Regions from separate parts of the Homo sapiens genome. Here regions 1 and 2 are each linked to region 3. The links come from fine-mapping of genetic effects on gene expression. A gene starts in region 3. Each other region holds a variant in brackets. All regions are shown on one strand. Distances are between the middles of the regions.

Region 1 (5,252 bases), 39 kb before region 3:
GAGGAACAAGCTAGAGGCTGCTACCATGATATATGTCTAGAGGGGACAGATAGGAGATGTGGTGCTAGAGTACTGGGGACAGAAGCCACAGGAATGAGCGGGAGCAGCCAGGGTAGAGAGAGGAGGGCCTGAGCCCAGGCTCTTAGCACTGGGGTGACAGCCAGAGAGGTAGAAAGGAATCTGGAGGGAGAGCTCCAGATAGCCAGGAGTCAGTCACAGCTGAGGCTGGCTTTCCCTTCTCCCTACCAGGCAGTTTTGGGGAGGGAATAACAGACCAGGCTTGAGTTTTACCTGTGACCATATATGCTGGGAGGCCTTTGCCAGGTCACTTGCCTTCTCTGATTCTTAGAATGTAAGTCTGGAATGGGGAGCAGTTTATCTACTATGAAAGGGAAATAAATCTGGGGACCTCAAAATCATTAAGCCAAAGGGAAAAGACAAGCTGGGAACTGCATCAGGCAAACTTGCCTCCCATTTTATTCCTAAATAAGATAGCTACAAGGATTAAAAAGCTACATACCTCATGCACATTTTGCCCACAAGGAAATTCCTTGTAGGCCTCAAGATTTTTACCCTAAAACAGTTCTGTTGGATTTCACCCTGGCAATGTAAATGAATAGCTGATCTTCACAGGTGCAGGACAAAGGACAGAACTCAAAGTCATCCCTCTGCTCACCTGAGACAAATGCATCTGATTGCTTCCTCTGCCCTTATTGTTTATGTAAAAATGCAGCTTCACTGAGCCAGACTAAAGCATAAGTGACTATTCCTCTACCCGCCACCCCGGCTCACATGTAAATTGTTATTCAGTGAAAGGCTGATAAGGATCCAAAAGAACACAAACTTTTATCTCTTATCGACCCATGACCTGGAAGCCCCCACCCCACTTCAAGTTGTCCTGCCTTTCCAGACCAAACCCATGTACATTTTACACACATTGATCGATGTCTCATGTCTCCCTAAAGTGTATAAAACCAAGCTGTGCCCCAACCATCTTGGGCACATGGCATCAGGGTGAGGCTGTCACAGGTGCATCCTTAACCTTGGAAAAATAAACTTTCTAAATTGATTGAGACCTGTCTCAGATACTTTTGGTTCACACTACCTACCCTCTGGGTTAGCAAGAGGGTCAGAAGAATGGTGGTAAACTACAGGACTTTCTAGGTATGGAGACCCTGCCTTGTCAATTTCCATGGTATAAATGTGTCCACTATGGCCTATTTCAAGCTTCCCACATAAAGCGATACACAGTAGCACATGATAATGTGGTCTTTCCACCAAACAGAATAGATGTAAATAAGCTCCCAAGAGCATAGATGATAGTAAGGTATAGTAAGGATAGTAAGGATGATAGTAAGGATAGTGAGGATAGTAAGGATAGTAAGATAGTAAGATAGTAAAATATTTACTATTAAGATAGTAAAATGATTACGAGGCAACAAGTTTTGAGCATTTACTTTGTTTTTAGTAAAATGTATTTAAATCTAAGTTTATATCATTTGATCTTTTTATATTGTTTATTTATTTATTTTTTTTGAGACAGGGTCTCACTCTGCCGCCCATGCTGGAATGCAGTGGTGTGATTACAGCTCACTGCAGCCTCAAACTCCTGGGCATAAGCGATCCTCCCATCTCAACCTTCTGAGTAGCTGGGACTACAGGCGTGCACCACCACATCCAGCTAATTTTTATATTTTTTGTAGAGACAGGGCTTCACCGTGTTGCCCAGGCTGGTCTCGAACTCCCGGGCGCAAGCAGATCACCTCCCTCGGCCTCCCAAAGTGTTAGAATCACAGGTATGAGCCACCACACCAGCCTACATTATTTAATTTTTAATAATGGCTGTGTCTAACAACGAGCTCATAAAATTCCTGAAAAGCTAACAATTGGCTGTCATCCCTACTGGCCAGCTGTGACATGCCACTTACTGGTCTACAGGCAAGAGGATATGCAAAGTAAACCTCCAATGGGCCCTCCTCTCTGTCATCCTCAAGAGGCTCAACCTCCGCCCTAGGGGGCTGCTGGGCTTCTCAAACATTAAGGGGCAAAGGCAGGAGTGCTCTGAGCCCAGCCTACCCAAGGCAGCCACAGGTTTGGAGGAAAAACGCACTTCTTTCCACCCCTCCCCACCCCTGTCTGAGTCCTGCCATGCCTAAGACAGTATCCCCAACAGTGGCCCCTGTTCTGGGGACCTCATGTTCCCAGCCCTTCCTCAGGAAAACCAGAGAGCTAAACTCATTGGTGAACATCTCTTTATTGGAAAATCCTGGTGGGTGTAGGGGCTCCTTAGACTCTGGTGCCCGGACCTGCATCTGGACATGCTTCAAAGCTCTGGGTCCTGAGCCAGCAGTAGTAAAGGAAGACACAGATGCCCATCCCCAGGGCAGACAGCAACACCAAGAGCAGAGTCCCTGTTACCAGTGTCAGTGAACTGGGAAGACTTCCATATATAAGAGGGAGAGGCTAGGTAGGGCCTGGAGAGGCAAGAAGTGCGCCAGCAGAGGCAGGAAGTGCACCAGCAGGGGAAGGAAGTACACCAGCAGGGGCAGGAAATACACCAGCAGGGGCAGGAAGTGCGCCAGCAGAGCCAGGAAGTGCACCAGCAGAGGCAGGAAGTG[C/T]GCCAGCAGAGCCAGGAAGTGCACCAGCAGAGGCAGGAAGTGCATCAGCGGGGGCAGAAAGTGCACCAGCAGGGGCAGGAGATACACCAGCCGAGGCAGGAAGCGCCCCAGCAGAGGCAGCAAATATACCAGTAGGGGCAGAAAGTGCACCAGCAGAGGCAGGAAGTGCACCAGCAGGGGCAGGGAGGAGACTGGATGACAGCCCCCATTACCCAGAACCATGTTGTTCACATGGGAGAGGGTGCAGGTATACCAGCCTTGAACGACGCCTATGTGACCTCAAGCCTCAGTTTCCCCATCTATAGAATGGGACCTGATTGTGTCTACTGCATGGGATTATTGGGAGGATTCTTGGGAGGATTAAACAGAAAAATGGAAGCCCTGGCCCCTCCTTTGGCAGGCAGGCAGGCAACAAAGGCAGCATGTATTAACAATATGCAGTGGGCAGCAGTTACTGTTCTGGATAAGGAGGCTCAAAGGGGTAAGTGGCTTCCAAGGTCATGAGGTAAGCAAGCTTACAGCCAGATTGCCTGAGGTTTCAGGCTCTGCCCTGGCAGGCCACAAATGGGGGCCCAGGGAGGAGAGGGAGGGGAGAAGGAGGAAGCCAGAGCCTGGTTCTACAGGGACTGCCAAAGACCACTGGATGCAGAGCTCCAGTGTCTCTCACTGTGAAGGGGACCTGGAGAAGAGCCCAGGCTACAGGAGAGGGCTCCCTTGCTCGTCTCCAGGCCCCCTAGAGTCAGAAGCCTGACTCAGTTCAGAGGACAAGTCAGCCTTCTCTGTCACCTGATTGGAAGCCTTCTCAGGGGCCTGATGGGAAGCCTTCTCAGAGGCCTGATTGGAATCTGGAAGCCAAAGACATCAAAGACAGTTTTAAGCCACAACACAACATCCCCTCACACCCCCAACACACACAGCTATAAACTTCTGACCTTCTACTATTTGTTTACTGATACTGAAAGTTGAGAGAATATGAAGCTATTTTTTTTCCAAGGACAGAAAAGATAACATGTTGTTTATACTATGGTGTGAGTGACTACAAGCCTTCTCTCTCCTCTATGAAACTCTCAGAAGGGCATATATCAAGGGTTATGTGGGTGGAGGTGAAGGGGTCTCCAGATATCTGTTTAATAAAGATTACATGAGAGGCTCAAAAGTGGCAGGCCAATCTAATGCTCTCATTTTGCACTTGGGGAAACCAAGGCCCAGAAAGGGAAAGGATTTGCCCAAGGTCCCACACAGTAGAAGCCTCTCCAGACAGGATCCAGAAGCCAGGACCCTCCTTGGTTCTGATCAATGGGCACCTTGAGTGGGTCTTTGTGGTCCAGGCCAGTGTCAGTTTCCTCAGAGGCCTTTAGTAGCAAGATGATGTCTTCTATAAGCCTGTTCATGCAAGGCTGTGACTGATTCCCCGGGCCAGCTGCCTCCCTTGCCTCAGAGCCTACCTCCACCCTCCACACCCAAAACAGGGGCCTCCTACCTGCCAAGGACCTTTGATAGGGTAATCAGGGGGCCAGGCAGGTAATCTCACAACTGTCACTCATACTCCCAGGGAGGCATCCAGAAGTTCTTACCTAGAGGTGAGGGATGGAGGTGGTCAGTGCACCAGAGATGGGAGCTAGGGGTGGCATGGACCAGACCTGCATTTAACAAGCAAAGAAACAGAGGCTAACAAAAGGTCAGTGACTTGCCCATGATGTCACAGCCAGCAAGAGCTGGAGCTGGGATTTGAACCTGGGTCTAGGTCACAGTCCAAAGCCTCCATTCCCAGTATACCTCACACTGCCCACTCTAGGCCAAAGCAGTTGGGCTTGTGGTCCAGCCAAGCATGGGGAACTATTGCAGAAATTCAATCTGAGCTATTTTGAGCCTCAGTTTCCTCACCTCCCACACAATTAAGTGAGGTCATGTACCTCAAATGCCAGTTACAGGGTAAGGCATGCAGTACACCTTTGGTGAACATGACTCACCATGAGTGCCCCTGTGGAAGGAACAGGCCTTCTTGGTAGCATCAGATGGGACCTTTAGATTCCAGAGCAACAGCTTGTGGTGCACCCCGTAACTTCCAAAGATTCCTCAGCTTGGGTCTCTGTTCCTACGGGGTGGCAGAGTGGGGAGGGGGTTATCTGTTTCCACTCACATCAGCAGGAGTACCAGTAAAGCTGAAGGCCTGGAAGGAGAGCTCCAGTCTCTTGGGGACCTCTTGGGGCACGAAGTGGGAGTGGAAGTTCTTGCCGTTCACCAGGCACCTGGAAGGCACAGGTTGGAAGGTCATCAGGGTCAGACCCCTGAACTGGGATCTGGTCCTAGCCCCAACACCACCATACACCATCATTTGTTGAGAATTCTGCATGCCAAGCACTGAGCTAAGCGTCACCCCATTCAGTCTACACAGCAGGCTTTGAAGATTCTGGCACTATCCCCATTTCACAGAAGGGCAAACAGAGGCTCCAGAGGTGAAAGGGCCAGTAAAGCATTCTTGCTCCCCTGGCCTAGAAAGGACTACTCAAGAACGCCCAGGGAGCACTATCTGGGCATCCGTGCCTTCCAGCCCTGGAAGGCTCTCAGCCCCTGTCCCAGCCTCCCCAGAGATATCACCCACTGAATTGTACCCATCCTACCCTATCCTCCTCC
Region 2 (5,127 bases), 65 kb after region 3:
AATACTTAATTGTATTAAGGTCATGTACCAAGGATTTGATAAAGTTTAAATAATTTACTCTCTACTTTTATCCATTTTATCCATTTTAACTCATGTAATCCTCATGTGAGTATTCCTGTTTAACACTTGAGTAAACTGAGGCACAGAGAACATAAGTTGCATGCCATAGTCACACACTGTGAAAGTGAAAAGAGAATGTGTGCAAAACACGTCACAGTCCTGGTTTCTGAGTAAAGGCAGGCTGTTATCTTTAGAATCAAGCTATCACAGGGAGATAGGCAATGCTGTGGGTGTTGGAGGAAGGTGAGAGCCTGTTGCTAACAATTTCCTGGTTTTAAAGCTAAGGCTGATTTTATTGGGAAGATCTCACATGTGTGTGGCCCCTGAGAGTTCCCAGTGCCTTTTATTTGCAGTCCTTCCATTTGGACCTCCTAGCTGCCCCATCAGGTCATCTCCAGGGCTCAGAGGGGTGAGACCATTTCCCAAGGTCACAGAACCAGCTCTCTAGTCACCACCCTGCCTCTCCCTCTCACCCAGAGTCAGTACCAGTTTTATGGCTTTATTACAAACTGCTGGGTCCCTCCCATTTTCAACTTGATTGATGGGATGTCATCCCTTATCCTGTCTGACATTTGCCTCTGGCCTGGTTGCTAGAAGTTTGCCCCAGGGGCAAGAGTTGAAATTTGGCTTCCTGAGGTGGGCTTTGTGGTTTGCGTCCCTAAAGTGAGCCCACTACTGGTTGCTTGTCCATGGCCAACACCAGAAATCCCCTGAGCACTACCTGGGTCTCATTCCAAGAAGGAAGAGGGTCAGGAGACCTGGGGAGTCTCATATTCCAAGTTCTTCTTTCTTTCTGGGAGCAGTGGGCAGTTCATGGTGTTAGGGCACTCACCCCCACAGACTGGCAAACCCTGCAGGACTTCCGTGGCTGAGGCTGTGACCGGAGGCCAGGAATGCCGTTGGGTGGATTGTGAGTGAATGGGCCCTTTGAGCTGCCCTCTAGAGAGCAAATCCAGTTTCCTGGAGCTCCTGAATGAATATCTGTACTGGCTCGCTCAGATGCAGAAGCTCCATTGACCATGAGGCCTTGTGAACATCAGTGGCCACAGGCCCAGTGTGCTGCTTGGCACTGCACTAGTTTAGGACCTGCAGCATGTAGGTAGCGTCCTAGTGTTTATAATACAAAGCTGCTCTGCACAGCTTTTCTGATTCTTCTTGCAATCTCCTGAGGATTATCTGCCCCATTTTTAAAACGAGGTGGAATACCCAAGGTCATGTAGCCAGTGAGTGCTCTGGAAAGCCAAAGCAGCTCATCCCTTCCTGGGGACCACACTGCTCTGCTCCACCAGACCACACTATGAAATAGGAATAAGTGCTCCTGTTGCAGGACTGCTGGGAAAACAGGTGGTGTGGGACTTAAGTCACCATAATTTTGAAGACTTGCATGCAGAGGGCTCCAGGAATTGTAGACATTAAGGAATTTCACTTTCAGTTCTACCCACTACTTAAGTACTTGTCATGTACTCTTAGAGGAGGCCAGTAATGATCAGAACCATTTTACTTTAAAATTAATAATATTGTATTAGAGAATATATTAAATGGTTATATTGGGTTATGTTAGGATATATACTTGAATGGAAATACATGTACTATTAGCAATCATATTTCATTTATCCCTGTAATTAGACAAGAAAGCATAATATAGCTCTACTCATGGGTACACATACCAGTGTATAAGATTTTTAGAAGTTTACTTTTTAAAAATAAAAGCAAAATGTAAGATCTTAAGAGTTATGATCATTAACTCTACCAGATATGGAGATTTGCTGTTAACTATTCTGTATTGTTACATTTTTTTAATTCTGCATTGTTGCCAGGTGTAGTGGCTCACACCTGTAATCCCAGCACTTTGGGAGGCCGAGGCGGGCGGATCACCTGAGGTCGCGAGTTCAAGACCAGCCTGACCAACATGGAGAAACCCTGTCTCTACTAAAAATACAAAATTAGCCGGGCATGGTGGCACATGCCTGTAATCCCAGCTACTTGGGAGGCTGAGGCAGGAGGATCGCTTGAACCCAGGAGGTGGAGGTTGTGGTGAGCTGAGATAGCACCATTGCACTCCAGCCTGGGCAACAAGATTGAAACTCTGTCTAAAAAAAAAAAAAAAGGCTGCATTGTTATATAAAAGAACACTGCCTGGTGAGTTCCCTGACACCATGCCCTGACACTGCTCCCAGCATGTAAGTGAACAATTCTAGGTACCCCTGGACACTACAGTCCATGAAGCAGGACAAGATAAACTCCTGCCAGGCACAGTGACACACCTGTAGTTCCAGCTGCTTGGGAGGTTGAGGTAAGAGGATTGCTTGAGCCAGGAAGTTCAAAGTCAGCTTAGACAACATAGTGAGAACTCATCTCTAAAAAAGTTTTTTTAAATTAAAATTAAAATAGATCATTACAGAGAATACTGTTATAACAGGTGGCAGGTGCCTGTAATCCCAGCTACTTGGGAGGCTGAGGCAGGAGAATCTCTTGAACCCGGGAGGTGGAGGTTGCAGTGAGCCAGGATCACACCACTGCACTCCAGCCTGGGCAACAGAGCAAGACTCCGTCTCAAAAAAAAAAAAAAAAAAAAAAAGGGCATCTGGACTTTTGCTCATGGCCAGTGCTCACAGGTTTCCTGAGCACATGCCAACTGCACATTCCAGGATCCAGGAGAGGGGCCTATGTGAGATCCTCAAGCCCAGCTGTTGGGAATGACCCCAGCAGGATGAGACTCTGGGATATCAACACATTCTATCTTCAAAAGAATGTCTCCAACAGCCAGTTCACCAGGATGTTCCACAGCATTGCCTAAGGCCTCTTAAATTCTTTATTCCAGTGAACCACGTGATTCTGCAGGGCTCCTTTCTGATCATTTATTCATTGGTTCACTGTTGCCCTTGCTTTCTCACTCCAATCTAACAACACAGCCTCCTTCTCCTTCAAGGGGAAAATCATCTGCTGCCATGCTTGTACACTATTCTCAGTCCTGCAGAAGGGGTCCCTCA[T/C]TTTCAGCCCATACCACCTCCCCAACACCTACTCCAGCATTCTCCATACCTTACCTGGCTTTATTTTCTTATTCTCACTACCTGATAGATGTTCTGTGCTTGTTCATGTTGTCCCTCCTCCACTGGACTATAAACTCTATTGGGCCAGGACTTCATCTCTCTTATTCACTAGAGCAAGCTCGTCCAACCCATGGCCCAGGAGAGCTTTGAATGTGGCCCAACACAAATTTGTAAACTTTCTCTTTTTTTTTTTTAGACAGAGTCTTGCTCTTTCGCCCAGGCTGGAGTGCAGTGGCGCCATCTCGGCTCACTGCAAGCTCCACCTCCCGGGTTCACGCCATTCTCCTGCCTCAGCCTCCCGAGTAGCTGGGACTACAGGCTCCTGCCACCACGCCCGGCTAATTTTTTGTATTTTTAGTAGAGACGGGGTTTCACCGTGTTAGCCAGGATGGTCTCGATCTCCTGACCTCATGATCCGCCCTCCTCGGCCTCCCAAAGTGCTGGGATTATAGGCATGAGCCGCGCCCGGCCCCAAATTTGTAAACTTCCTTAAAACATTATGAGATTTTTTTTTGCAATGTTTTTTAACTCATCAGCTATATCGTTAGTGTATTTTATGTATGGCCTAAGACAATTCTTCTTCCGGTGTGGCCCAGGGAAGCCGAAAGGTTGGACACCCCTGCACTAATGTCTGGCTCATTATAGGTGTATTAAATAAAGAACTCTGGAGTTTGGCCAGGCATGGAGGCTCACGCCTGTAATCCCAACAATTTGGGAGGCCAAGGCGGGAAGATCACTTGAGCCCAGGAGTTCAAGACCATCCTAGGCCACATAGTAAGACCTAATCTCTACAAAAAAATACAAAAGTTAGCAATTTCACACAAGGACACCCAGTTGTTGAGGGGCACAGCCACGAAGTGAAGTCTCCCAAGCCACGTGCCATAGGTTAAATTGGGCAAACTCCCCCGCTGCAGCCACAGGCTGTGATGGGGAACACTCAAGACAATAATGAATTTGCAATTCCTTTTGCAAGCTTCAAATGCCACCACTCCTGGCCATTATTTATTTATTTATTTATTTATTTATTTTGAGATGGAGTCTTGTCTGTCACCCAGGCTGGAGTGGTGTGATCTCTGCTCACTGCAACCTCTGCCTCCCAGGTTCCAGCGATTCTCCTGCCTCAGCCTCCTGAGTAGCTGTGATTACAGGCGCCTGCCACCACGCCCAGCTAATTTTTGAATTTTTAATAGAGACGGGGTTTCACCACGTTGGCCAGGCTGGTCTCGAACTCCTGATCTCAAGTGATCCACCCACCTCAGCCTCTCAAAGTGCTGGGATTACAGGCATGAGCCACCGCGCCCAGCTCCTGGCCATTATTTACTGGGCTTCTCCATGTGCCAGGTGTTTAGCGCATACTGTCACACTAAAGTCTCAGCACAATTCTTCCAAGGAAGAATTTTTTCAGAATTTCCAATTTATAGATGAGGAAATGGGCTCAGAGAGAAGTAATTTGCTCAAGGTCACAGAGCATAAATTCAAATCCTGGTGGTTTGATTAAAGAAAATTAGAAGCTGAAGCATCACTGGAGTAACATCTATACAGTCTCCTAAAGATGAACACTCAGGGTCTCTAATCTACCCCCTCCCCAAATATCCCTGGGGTGAACGTCTCTATATTTGTGCCCTCACAGAGCTGAGTAAGAACATGTTTGGGATATAACCCTAGGGATAGAATCATGAAGTCAAAGGGTCGTGGATACTTTTCTTTGCTGTACTTGAGGCTTCACATCTGCCCCAGGTATGTCTGGCTCCTCCCCCTCCCTTTCCTGGGATAGGCCCATACCACCATGAAAGACCCATACCGCCCCTCCTGGGAGCTGGGACCAGGAGCCCACCACTGTCTGGAGTCACTGAAGAGAAGGAACATCCTCCTAGACTGAGGGTTTAAGACCAAAATAGCCTGTGCCCACTCCCATGTCTGTTCTTGCCTTGTTTATGGAAAGCCAGAAGCTCATGGAATGTGAGGATTGTACAATGACGCCATCAAGAATGTCCAGGCCACATGGCATCAAGGTGAA
Region 3 (5,252 bases):
CCGTGTTAGCCAGGGTAGTCTTGATCTCCTGACCTCGTCCTGATCCGCCCATCTCGGTCTAAAGTGCTGGGATTACAGGCATGAACCCCCACGCCCGGCCAACTGGACTTCTCTTTAACATAGTTCAACTCTGCAGACACTCCCTGGGCACTCATGCTGCCTGGAGCACTGTCTTGTCAGGGGGTGCCAGGTTGCAGGGCAGGAAGTGGGAAGGGAGTGAGACACTGCCCCTGCCCCACAACAAGGGCTCCCACACACCAGTCTGCGGGCAGGCAGATGTGTTCCCAGCTAATCGTGATAGTAGGCACTCTGATACGGACTGCAGTAAAAGCTGTCAGTTTACCAAGCATTTCCTGTCGCTCAGCGCTGATCTTGGCACCATAGCTTATTTACTCCTCACTCACAACCCGTAGAAGTATTGTCCCCATTCTACAGATGAAGGAATTAAAGCTCAGAGAGGCTAAGTAACATGCCCAAGGTCAAACAGCTAGTCATTAGCAGAGTTGGGATGCAAACCCGGGTCTGTCTGAGTCCAGAGCACACACTCTTTCCACCATGGTCTTCTGCCCCATGGAAGGATGAGGAGTTTGCTGGGGAGCAGAGGGAAGAAAGAGGTGGTCTCACACGGCTTCCTATAAAACATGGCATTTGTGCTGGGCTTGAAGGACTTCAAAGGCAGCGGGGGAGAGAGGTGGGCAACTCAGGTGGAGGGAACAGTTCCAGTAGGGGAAGCCAGGAAGCGGGAAAGTGCAGGTAGTGCCAAACAAAGGAGGTGGACAGTGACCTCAATGGACAGCCACACCTACCTCCAACCTCTCACTCCCTGGTAGGCGAACAGGCCCCTATATGCCCTCCCTGAGCCTCCTGCTCCCAGCCATTCACCTTTCCCTGACCACTGACCTAGAGGGCAGTCCCAGAGGACACTAATGAGGACTGGCCACCTCTGCCCCTTGCCTAGGTCAGCCAGGGACTCAGACCATCCCACCCCACAAAGCAGCTCCCAGTGCACCAGGGAAACTGCTCCTCCAAACTGCAGGCATGAAGCTACCCCTCTCCAAGGACCCTAACCAGCCCCTGGTCTCCAGTTTAATCACCACCTAATCCCTTCTCTGCCTGACCTCTCCTGCGAGTCAGCAGTAAAATCTGAAGCCTCCCTGTCCAGCCTTCCTGGGATGGGGGAGGCCCAGCCTGGGACAGAGGCTTTATGGAGCTGGTGCCTCCCCACTGCTGCCAGTGGCAGGATACATCTGCCCCCCGCCCCACCTTTCCCAGCCATGGAAAACTCCCCAGCTGTGGAGCCTCCAAATCTTGGGGCCAGACCCTATCGGCTCTTGCCCAGAGAAGAGCCGACCTCCTCACTCCCCAGGGGTGACAGATAAGAGATTTAGTTCGTGAAGAGGAAGGTCCCGCCCTCAAACTGTTGCCCCCTCCTTGTCACAGATGCCAAGGCAAAGCCAGGCTCACCTTCTTGCCTTCTGAGGAGCATAAACCTTAAGTCCTGAACCAGGCAGGGGTCTGGGATGCAAGATAGGGGACGGCTGGTCTCAGCTCAAACTAACACCAACCCAGTGCCTCATGGGGGGAGCCTGGAATTCACACACGGAGGTGTTCCCTTCAACATCATCTGGTCCAACCTCCTCATTCCATGGCATCGAGGAGCAAAGAGAAGGGCAGGGTTTTGCCCAAGGTCGCACAGCGGCTTGGTGCCGGGGCAGGAGCTATCCAAGTCTCCCAAGGAGCTATCCAGAGCCCTTTCCATCGTGCCACTGACCCTACAAGAAGAAAGCCTCCCGGAAATGGGAGGAAACTTGGGCCCCTGCCCCTGCCCCTGCCCCAGGGCCCGGCTGCCAGTCCCGAGGATGAATGTTGCCTTTGTGCCCTCAGCGGCCTCCGGGGACTCACAAGCAACCACTTGTCCCCAGGTGGCACCGCCACGGCTGCTCAGAGCTTGGGCGGGGGGTGGCCAAACTTCCTGGGACCTCGAGGGTGGCAAAGGGAGGAAGGAGCCATCCGCGGGCGCGGGCCAGGCTGGGACAGCCGCCTCTGTTCCCTCCGCCGCCCGCCACGGACCCTCGGCCCCCACCCAGCCCCGTCCCTTCTCGCTGCCGCAGGAGGGCGAGGGCCACAGCCCGAGGCGGGAGCCCGGGCCAGGGCTACAGCTCACCTTGGCCAATGCCTCCTTCTGCCTGGGGCTCAGATCGCCGACTCTGCCGCTCATCGTGGCTCAACCGCGGGGATGGGGTTTGGGGGCGGGAGGCGGCGGGTGCGGCAGCTGATGGAGCACAGACTCGTCCTCGCCGCCACCCGGAGTAAAGTCCCAGCCTTTTGCCCGGGCCGCGGAGCTGGCAGCCAAGCCCCGCCTCTTAAAGGATCCCGAGAGGCGGAGTAGGGAGCGATGCGCTGGGGCGCGGAAGGCTCTGACACGGGCCCCCTCCGCCCTCCTGAAGTCAGAGACCCAGGCAGGAGGCGAGCAAGTGTGCCCACTGGGACTGAGGCCAGTGGGCATCAGAAGGGCAGGGAGTCTCAGTTTTAGTTCCAAATTTATCCTTACCTCATTGTGTGACCTTGGAAGAGACACCTGAGCTCTCTGGGCCTCTGAACAAGGAGGGATTGAAAGGTGCTATCTAATGAGCTCTTCTAACCAGGCTCGCATAGTGCAGGACAGCACAGCATCCTGCACACAGGGATTGTTTTTGCATTGTTTTTTTTTTGAAACGGAGACTCGCTCTGTCACCCAGGCTGGAGTGCAGTGTCACGACCTCGGCTCACTGCAACCTTCGCCTCCCGGGTTCAAGCTATTCTCCTGCCTCGGCCTCCCGAGTAGCTGGGATTACAGGTGCACGCCACCATGCCAAGCTAATTTTTGTATTTTTAGTACAGATGGGGTTTCACCATGTTGGCCAGGCGGGTGTCGAACTCCTGACCTCAAGTGATCCGCCTCGGCCTCTCAAAGTGCTAGGATTACAAATGTGAGCCACGGTGCCCAGCCTACAGGGATTATTAATAAATGTATCCTGAATGAATGAATGAATGTAAGAACTGCTCCAATAGAGACACAGATCCCGGGGCTGGCAGAACCCTGAGAGGGAGAGAGAAACATAGATCATTCAGGGATCATGCAACTTACCTCGTTTAACAGCTAGGGAAACTGAGGCCCAGATAAGGCATGGCTTGCCCAAAGTTGTTAGTGGCATGACATATGTGGAGTGCCCACTGCCTGGCACATGGAAAGTGCTCAGCTGTGCCCTCCCCTTATGGCCTGGAATTAATGCAGAGCTAGGTCCAGGAGTCTGTGGGCATCTCGTCTCCCAGAGCCATACTTCTGCCCCCTCAACACTCAAGTCTCTGGGAGAGACAAAGCAGAATGTCCCCAGTCTCTCTCCTTACCTGGAGGCAAAGGCACCAGGCCTGTTAAAGACATTTAAGGACTTTGCTCTGCCCTTGGTGTGGCCCCCTCCATAGACGCCTGCTGCAGGGTGCAGAGTGAGGGTTGAGGCCCCCAACGCCCACCTCTACAGAGAGTTTTCAGGCAGTTCTGCCCTAGTTAGGCTCGCTGGCTTCTGGCCTGGGGCAGGACAGGGCTGCCTTCCTTACTGGATACATGGCTAAGATCTTTATATAAGACCCTTCCAGGGCCAGGATATTCTTTCCAGGCTAGAGCCTACTCAAAGGAAACTATTATAGAAGAACAGCATCTTGGCCGGGCGCGGTGGCTCACACCTATAATCCCAGCACTTTGGGAGGCCAAGGCAGGCAGATCACCTGAGGTCAGGAGTTTGAGACTAGCCTGGCCAACATGGTGAAACCCCGTCTCTACTAAAAATACAAACATTAGCTAGGCGTGGTGGTGTGCATCTGTAGTCCCAGCTACTCAGGAGGCTGAGGTGGGAGAATTGCTTGAACCTGGGAGGCAGAGGATGCAGCGAGCTGAGATCACACCATTGTACTCCAGTCTGGGGCGACAGAGCAAGACTCCCTCTAAAAAAAAAAAACAAACAAACAAAAAATAAAAACAAGAAGCACAGCCTCTTATATTGGTTCAGCAACTTAGAGCTCACAAGGTACCTTCAGATCTAGCTTGTCACTTAAGTGTGGGACAATCCTCTAAGGTAGGCAGGTCAGGTGACTTATTGAGGAGCCTGAGGGAGAGGTGGTCATAGGTGGGCACGTGCAGAGTTGGGACTTAAACCCAAGTTTGTGGTTTCTAGGCCGTATGCTCCCAGGCCAAGGTGTGGACGGGCCTGGGAACTGCCTGCGAAAGTTACCCACGAAAGTACAAGATCACCTTCACCCAGCAGGATACAGCCCTCCCCGCATCTGAAGTTACCCAAATAAAAGCCTCGGTAAAGAACCCTTCCCCAGGCCTGCCCTTCCCAGGTTCAACAGCTGCCTCTTTCTTCTTCCTCCACTGAGACTTAACCTACTTCTGGCCCACCATAAAACAGCTAGTTAATTTGATCATATAAATCCTAAATAGGCCCAGGCTCGGTTGCTCACACCCGTAATCCCAGCACTTCGGGAGGCTGAAGTGGGTGAATCACCTGAGGTCAGGAGTTCAAGACCAGCCTGGCCAACATGGTGAACCTCGTATCTACTAAACATACCAAAAAAAAAAAAATTAGCCAGGCATGGTGGCACACACCTGTAGTCCCAGCTACTTGGGAGCCTGAGGCAGGAGAATCGCTTGAACCCAGGAGGTGGAGGCTGCAGTGACCCAAGATGGCACCATTGCATTCCAGCCTGGGCGACAAAGCAAGGCTCTGTCTCAAAAAAAAAAAAAAAAAAAAAAAAAACCTAGCCAGGCACAGTGGCTCACGCCTGTAATCCCAGCACTTTGGGAGGCTGAGGCGGGTGGATTACCTGAGTTCAGGAGTTTGAGACCAGCCTGGCCAACATGGTGAAACTAAAAATACAAAAATTAGCCGGGCATGGTGGCGGGCGCCTGTAAACCCAGCTACTTGGGAGGGTGAGGCAGGAGAATCGCTTGAACCCAGGAGGCAGAGGTTGCAGTGAGCCGAGATCACGTCACTGCAGTCCAGCCTGGGCAACAGGAGAGAAACTCGGTCTAAAAAAAAAAAAAAAAAAAAACAAGCAAACAAACAAAAACACATAAATAAATAATCTGGTGAAGTCCTGGAGCTGGCTAACAAGAGAGAGTCCCTCCTTCCCATCCCCACTTTTTCTCCATCCCCTAATCCCTGCCCTACAGTTCTTCCTCCCTGCTAGGTATGTTGCACCCCTGCTCAAGAATC

Evidence for each region.
Region 1: its variant is fine-mapped to the expression of SEC14L2 in whole blood (TOPMed, PIP above 0.99). The same link has a PIP of 0.9 or more in blood mononuclear cells.
Region 2: its variant is fine-mapped to the expression of SEC14L2 in whole blood (INTERVAL, PIP 0.97).

Annotation. Positions count from the first base shown.
Region 1 is chr22:30,433,232-30,438,483 of GRCh38, reverse strand. It overlaps LOC105372990 (a long non-coding RNA gene), which reads right to left. Exons shown (of 4, transcript NR_148046.1): 1 at 5,240-5,252; 2 at 4,589-4,867; 3 at 4,099-4,192; 4 at 1,983-3,463. Among named protein-coding and RNA genes, the nearest start is that of MTFP1, 10 kb to the right of the region's middle. RefSeq lists an enhancer at 2,145-2,666. The variant C/T (reference allele first, on the strand shown) is at 2,619.
Region 2 is chr22:30,328,649-30,333,775 of GRCh38, reverse strand. It overlaps SF3A1 (splicing factor 3a subunit 1), which reads left to right. Exons shown (of 16, transcript NM_005877.6): 16 at 1-1,788. Among named protein-coding and RNA genes, the nearest start is that of TBC1D10A, 4.3 kb to the right of the region's middle. The variant T/C (reference allele first, on the strand shown) is at 3,051.
Region 3 is chr22:30,394,083-30,399,334 of GRCh38, reverse strand. It overlaps SEC14L2 (SEC14 like lipid binding 2), which reads right to left and starts at 2,317. Exons shown (of 12, transcript NM_012429.5): 1 at 2,165-2,317. The coding sequence starts at 2,218. RefSeq lists silencers at 1,925-1,984, 2,005-2,074.